Homo sapiens: one gene and its partner. The protein of the gene in region 1 purifies or fractionates together with the protein of each later gene. This does not show direct contact. Each region holds a gene or a part of one and is shown on either strand. Other genes may lie near its edges.

Region 1 (3,828 bases):
AAATCAAGTTGGATTTTGAGCTTACTAGTCTCTTCCCTACCCCTACCCAGGAAAAGTAAATGAAGTCTTCAGTGAATGGCTCTATCTTTTGCTCTTTCCTCTTTTCGGCCAAATCCCAAACGATAAAGGGAATTTGCCACGTGGGTGAGAAATGAGACTGAAGTGATTATCAACTGTGCTGGTTCGCAGTTAGAATTGTGCATGGCAGTAACCTGGGGAAATTAAAAGCAAATCTCTAAGTCTAGGATATCCCCTGAAGATTTTAATATGGTAAATCTAATATTTACTATTAAATATTACTGGGCATGTATGTTTTAAAATATTTCCTTGAAGCTGGGCATGGTGGTGCCTCTAGCCAGAGCAACAGATTAAGACACTGCCTCTAACAGCAACAACACAACAACAACAACAACAATAAAACATTTCTTGGGACACTGATACGCTGCTGGTTAAGAACCACTGAATAGATAAGTGTAATATAAATTCCCATATCTCAAACACACAAAAAATCTCTAGAAGAGCTGGAGATAGGTGCTGCTTCCTTTAAATTTCTCCTTTCCAATAATATTGGCCTGACTTTTACCTGTCTCTACCTCTGTGGTTGGGAAGTGGAAAGGACTATTATTTGCAGTATCTATCAGCATAAGAATAACACCTTTTCTTTGCCACCATCACTTATTCACTGCCATTCATAGGGTCATTAGAAATTTGCTATTGTGGACTCTTTTAATAAGTAGAGACTGACTCTTTCAGGACTCTGAGTCTCTTTGTTATCATTCTGGTGATTAGGTCAATACATCATTATTAAAAGCGGGGTTCTCTCAATTACAATAGCAAAAAATTCTAAACCTTTTTTTAAAGCTGAAGCTCTATTATGGACTGCCTCAGTATGTCAGTTAAGTACATAGAACTGTGGCATAATCAGGATAGCAGTTTTAAACACTGAAAACCATGAAGTTAGTAAGAATACAAAGAATACATATAGGTCATTATTAGAGCTTTAATTGATAAGCCATTGTATTTTTATTTCTGATTTATATTTTCCCTAAAATAAAAAAATTAGGTTACAATATAGAAACTAGAATTATAATTTAATATTATTTTAATAATTTAGTTGCAGCAGTCTTATGAACTAATTATCCATTTGGTGAACAATCTGGGAAAATTAAACATAAATTATAAATGAATGAATGTTGTAAAAGTGCTCAAAGTGGGTATTATGACTCTTAGTAACAATTTTTATTGTATTCTTGGGCCTATTTTGGAAAAAAAAATCTGAAACTAAAGAAAGGAAGTATTTTACATGAAAATACTTGTGTTACATACAATTGCTTGGAGACATATCCATAGCAAATATAAAAATACAAGGTATATAGTCCAAATGTGTCCCATACATGTGTTTAGTTTGTGTCTACAAATTGTCTCAACATGGAAGGTTTAGGAGACTCGTGCACAGATCTGGATTCCAGGCTTCTCTTCAAGAATCCAATCTGGTGTCCCTTGAGCCTATCTCAGGTTTTGGATGCTGTGCAGAGGTTGCCCCTTTCTATGAGGCATGTGGTCTCCATTTTGCTACTGTGCCTACCTAGGTACTTCACTTCCTCAGGTCATCTCCCTTGCCTCTGTAGGGATGACTTTACAAGCCCTGTTTTATAATATATTTTAGTAAATATTTCAAGGTTTTTAAGACATTTTATATTTATTTAAATGTAGAGTCTATATTTTATATAAATCCTTTGGTAATCGGGTTGAACTTTTGAATTTAGATGGTGGTGTTTTATAAACTATTTTTCTTTATACATACCATAAATAATCATCTTCCCATTAGAATGCATGTAAGCTTTTTAAGGTGAATCATGGTATGGTTGCATAGGTTATGCATATTGCAGACAACATTATATTTTTCTCTTCAGCATTGCCTCCTAAAAATGCAAGTAATTGGCCGAGCGCAGTGGCTCACGCCTGTAATCCTAGCACTTTGGGAGGCAGAGGCAGGTAGATCACGAGGTCAGAAGATTGAGACCATCCTGGCTAACACGGTGAAACCCCCTCTCTACTACAAATACAAAAAATTAGCTGGGTGTGGTGGCACACTCCTGTAGTCCCAGCTACTCGGGAGGCTGAGGCAGGAGAATTTCTCGTGCTTGAATCCGGGAGGCGGAGGTTGCAGTGAGCCAAGATGGCACCACTGCACTCCAGCCTGGGCGACAGAGCGAGACTCCATCCCAAATAAATAAATAAATAAAAGATGCAAATAATTTAGTGGCTTTCATTATGCTATAAATAATTCATATAGGTCATTATTAGAGCTTTAATTGATAAGCCATTGTATTTTTATTTCTGATTGATATTTTACCTAAAATAAAAAAAGTAAGAATTAATTGGAAACTAGAATACAAATAGATTTTTAAAGGAGTTATGTACCAGGGTCCTAAGATTATAATTACATAAATATTTGCATCAGGGTCCTAAGATTGTAATTGAGAATAACATTTCATACAGAGCTTTCTGACAGCTAAGATAAAAATATTACTAGAGAAAACCCATGGACTATTTAATAATAAGCAGTGAAAGTTCACTCGAAGCCTATCTCTATTAATTCAGAGCCCGGCTCTCCGAATTAAAAAGAGATAGGCTTCAAATGAACTGTCAATCGTGTCAGAATCTCAGATGACAATGTCAGGTGCTCAGGTGCTCAGGAGCTCCTGACATTGTCACCTGAGATTCTTACACCATCGATAGAAGAGAATGAGGCAAGTGTGTATCACCCAGAGGAAACCTCTACCTTTACTGGTAAGCTCTCACAACTGTATCCCTGAAACTCTCATTTCTCAAATGTTAACATTCTCCAAAATAAGTATTTACAAATAGGGATTAGGTGAAGTTCAAAAGATTTCTCAAATACTAGACACATAATGCAGTTTTGTAACATTTTTCAAACATGGGTGATCATGGAGTCTCTCTTTTGGGGTATAATGTTCAAATTCTGGTAAAGTAAATATCCTTTGGAATATATTAATAGTTTAAGAAACACCGCTCTATAGATAATAATTTAGATCATTAATAAAAATACCTGAAACATTTATTACTGTGTCTTAGAGTTTGAGGACATAGAGAAAAAAATACAGCTGCTGCCCTCAAGAAGCTCTTGGTTCAGGTGGGAAACAATTAAATCCTTGAAACATGCCATGCTAAATGCTGGGACAGAAGCAAAGATTCTTGGAACTGGGAAATGTTTGAAGTGAGTTTTGGAGATGACCAGAGTTCTTGTGGTGAGGCAGAGGAGGTTGTTTCCAGGGGAAGGAGCAGAACATAGAAAAGCACCGAGGAGGGAAAAGAAAGGGACTACCTCTTATGACCTTTCAATTGTATATATTGAAGCTCACAGGATCTTACTTACATAAGGTTTTCAGTTCAGTTGATAAATATGTAATTTTGTGATTATAAATTGTTGCTGTTATTTTACAGTGTGAATATCAGCCACTGTTATTTGCTGTGAGTCGAAGAAAAGTGAAAATGGTGGAATTTTTATTAAAGAAAAAAGCAAATGTAAATGCCATTGATTATCTTGGCAGGTACAGACCTTAGTTCTTATTGTGTCGTTTTTAAACCTGAGTGTCATTTTAGTGTGGTAGCAGTCCCTCAAGTCACAAATATTACATTAATAAGAAGACTAACTTGTAATTATTGGGATATAGTGAGAAATAACACAGATCATCACTTAGGTAGGAAAACAATTATTTGGACTGAGTAACATAAAGAACAGTGTATAGCAGGATTCGTCTCTCTCTATAGACATTATACACATAAAAGGCTTCTATATATAGA
Region 2 (3,828 bases), on another chromosome or scaffold:
CTATAGTAAGACATTATTGAGACAATGGGAGAAAGCTGAAAGTGATCTGTGGGTTAGATCATACAGGTTGAGTATCCCTTATTCAAAATGCTTGAGACCAGAAGTGTTTCAAATTTTGTATTTTTTTGAATTTTGAAATACTTGCATTATATATTTACAACTGGGCATCCCAAATCCCCTAATCTGAAATTTCATGTTGGTACTCAGAAAGTTTGAGATTCCGGAGGATTTCAGATTTGGGATGCTCAACCTATAGTAATGCATCAGTGCGTTAATTTCCTGATTTTGATGGTTGTCTTGTGACTATGTCCTTGTAGGAAATACACATTAAAATACTCAGGAGTGATGGCCATCAGGTTGGCAACTTATTCACAAATGGTTTAGAGAAAAATGTTTGTACTGTACTTTCAACTATTCTGTAAGTTTGAGATTATTTCAAAATAAAAATTATATTATAAAAAATGAGTCTGCCAATTCAATTTGGCAATTCTTCTCTAGGAGTTTATCTTATAGATTAGCACACACACAAAAAGATGTAAACATATTCATTATCTGTAACAGAAAAAAAACAACAAAACCCAAGCAACAAAAACCCTAAAGCTATAAGGTTATTCACTGCAGCATATTCCATTTTTTTTTTTTCTTTTAAAGGCCAGGTGCAGTGGCTCACCTGTAATCCCAGCACCTGGGAAGACTGATGGGAAGACTGCTGAGGCCATTAGTTCAGTACCAGCCTGGGCAACATAACGAGACCAAATCTCCACAAAAAATTTGAAAGAACAAATTAGGTGAGATGGCACATGCCTGTACTCCCAGCTACTAGGGAGGCTGATAGGGAGGCTGAGACAGAGGATCACTCAATCCCAGGAGTTCAAGGCCGTAATAATCTGTGACAGCGCCACTGTACTCCAGCCTGGGTGACAGAGCACCAGAGCAAGACCTTGTCTCTTAAAAACACACACACACACACACACACACACACACACACACACATACATAAAAGAACCAAAGAAAAAACCCTAATATCTATCAAGAAGGGACTAGTTAAATAGACTATTTAAGATGAACACAATGAGGGCATGAGGTAGATTTTTATATTGATGCAAAAATGTACCTGAGATACATTAAATAATAAAAATCAAGTAGGAGGAAATAGTATATATCGTATGTCTTCTGTGTATGTATTTAAAGGATACATACAAACAAGTACAATTTATAAATACATTCTGGAAGGATACTAAAGAAAAAAACATTTAACGTTGGTTATCACTGGGACATAAATAACTTTTTTGGGGAATTGTAGAGGGAAACTGTGTTTTTACTTTTTAATTTATACTCTCATTAAGTTTAAATTTTTACCATAAGCGGTTACTTATACAATTATCCTATATAATATACTACAAAAATATTTTAAAGAGGAAGTTAAGTAACTAGCATGAGGTGACTAGCTGAAAGTTTATGAATGGTAGATTTGAACCTAGGCCTAATCCTAGATTCATCATGCTTATTCTATCCTGGGGTTCAAAAACTTTCTTCTTGCACACAATTATCAAAAATGGACATTCAACAGGTACTCTTCGAATCATTATACAGATTACACATTTTTTCTTAAAAATTTTTAGTAACATGAGTTCTCCATTTCTTGCTACCACCATGTAACTAATTCAAATGTTTAATGGTTATGTCCACTATATTACATTTAATAATGCAAAAACAGCAAAAGCCCTTTTTGGCACTAGGTAAACTGACTAGCATGGTGTGTGACATTATCAATACTGGTCACATCTATCTTCTACATTTAAGATTCTAAGGAATCCTCCTATTGAATGTTTAGTCCTGTTGGTATATGCTGTTCACATAAATATTTCTCAATAGCATTTTTCACAGGGCAGTTCTTCCTCGTGCAGGCACAAATATAAAATCCTTGACCTCTACCCACTAAATGCTGGCAGTTTTTCTACACTCCTACCTGTCAAGTCAGTGTGACATCCAAAAACACTCCCTTGGTTAAGAACCACTGTAAGATGTCATACTTTTTAAGGCACAGGTGATAATGCCTCATTTATTCCAGAATGCTGGCAGCATTAGGGGATCACCAGTCTGTTGTCTGCCTCAACAGACAGATTCCCATCATAACACTGTCTTATCCAGAAATTTCTCCAGGGGCCAGAGGGTGGGAAGGTGGGTAGTATTCTGCTCCTGATTTCTTCAGACTATATAGAAATTTCACCTAATACAGAAAAAGTATAGAATACTTAGTATAATATCACTCTTGTAAACGCTATTGCTGCTGCAGGCAAACTCAATTTCATTCTAAATATTCTAAAAAAGCTTCTCTCTCAAAAAAAAAAAAAAAACCCTTTCAATTCTGGCACAGGAAGAGAATAAAAGAATCTAAAGGAGCACTTGTTCTCTTCCCTCTTTTACTCGAATCCACATCTAATTGTCAGAGAAACTAATAAAAATATTTTTTAAAACTCTTTCAATAATTTGATATGGAAAAGTAGTCAACGTTTTAAATAAATTAGGCTGGGCGCGGTGGCTCATGCCTGTAATCCCAGCACTTTGGGAGGCCGAGGCGGGCGGATCACCAGGTCAGGAGATCGAGACCATCCTGGCTAACACCATGAAACCCCATCTCTACAAAAAAAATTAGCCGGGCGTGGTGACGGGCACCTGTAATCCCAGCTACTAGGGAGGCTGAGGCAGGAGAATGGTGTGAACCCAGGAGGTGGAGCTTGCAGTGAGCCGAGATTGCGCCACTGCACTCCAGCCTGGGTGACAGAGCGAGACTCTGTCTCAAAAAAAAAAAAAAAGTTTTAAATAAATTATAGACTACTTCAGTTTTTGACTCTATCACCACCAACCTGACCGTATGATTTGAAAAATGAAATCTTCTCTAGACTTTTAAGTTGCCCTCCGGTCCTAGAATTCTAACCATTTCAAAGCTTCCAAAATCATATCAAAATCAATCACACCCAGGACCTTGAATGTCTTCCTAATAAAGGCTGTTCTAAATCAGTTTAAGTAGTCAAGAAGTTGGAGGCTGTATATCACAAAGATCCTAAATATGATTTTTTACAGCTCCTGCTTAATGACCAGAAGATTACACACCCACCAATTAGAATAATTGTGAGGAAATGCCAATGTAGCACCAATTCACAGGCTATAGAATGGGGGAAAAAATAAAAGCAGCATTTGTACCTTCAGAGACTCCTTCCAGATGTTGCACTTTACATTGAAGGGCTATTGAGAAGAAACTATGCTGACATGGTGCCTCACACCTGTAATCCCAGCACTTTGGGAGGCAGAGGCGGGTGGATCACCTGAGGTCGGGAGTTCAAGACCAGCTTGACCAACATGGAGAAACCCTGTCTCTACCAAAAATACAAAATTAGCCGGGCATGGTGGCACATGCCTGTAATCCCAGCTACACGGGAGGCTGAGGCAGGAGAATCGCTTGAACCCAGGAGGTGGAGGTTGCAGTCAGCCGAGATCGCGCCACTGCACTCCAGCCTGGGCAACAAGAGTGAAACTCCATCTCAAACAAACAAAAAAAAAAAAAAAAAAAAAAAAAGAGAGAGAGAAGAAACAATAAAAATTCCCTTTCCTTAAAATGATTAAATGAACATCCTACCAAACATATTCTTATGCAAGATGGGATGTAGCAACGCCACTCCCAAAAGAAAGACCCACTCCCAAAAGAAAATCTATTAGTCGAACCACCAGTAACGACTTTCATGTGGCAACCTCTATACTCCAAGTTACCCGAGAGTGGATAAAATCCACTTTCTGGAGCACTGACACTCAACAAAGCGTTTGAAAGTA

The links.
Region 2: the proteins of ANKRD36 (region 1) and SEM1 purify together in Homo sapiens (co-immunoprecipitation; one large-scale study listed by IntAct). This does not show direct contact.

Annotation. Positions count from the first base shown.
Region 1 is NC_000002.12:97,119,419-97,123,246, forward strand, and holds part of ANKRD36 (ankyrin repeat domain-containing protein 36A), read left to right. Parts: intron 1-3,468; coding exon 3,469-3,575; intron 3,576-3,828.
Region 2 is NC_000007.14:96,703,019-96,706,846, forward strand, and holds part of SEM1 (26S proteasome complex subunit SEM1), read right to left. Parts: intron 1-3,828. UniProt on the Homo sapiens protein: Component of the 26S proteasome, a multiprotein complex involved in the ATP-dependent degradation of ubiquitinated proteins.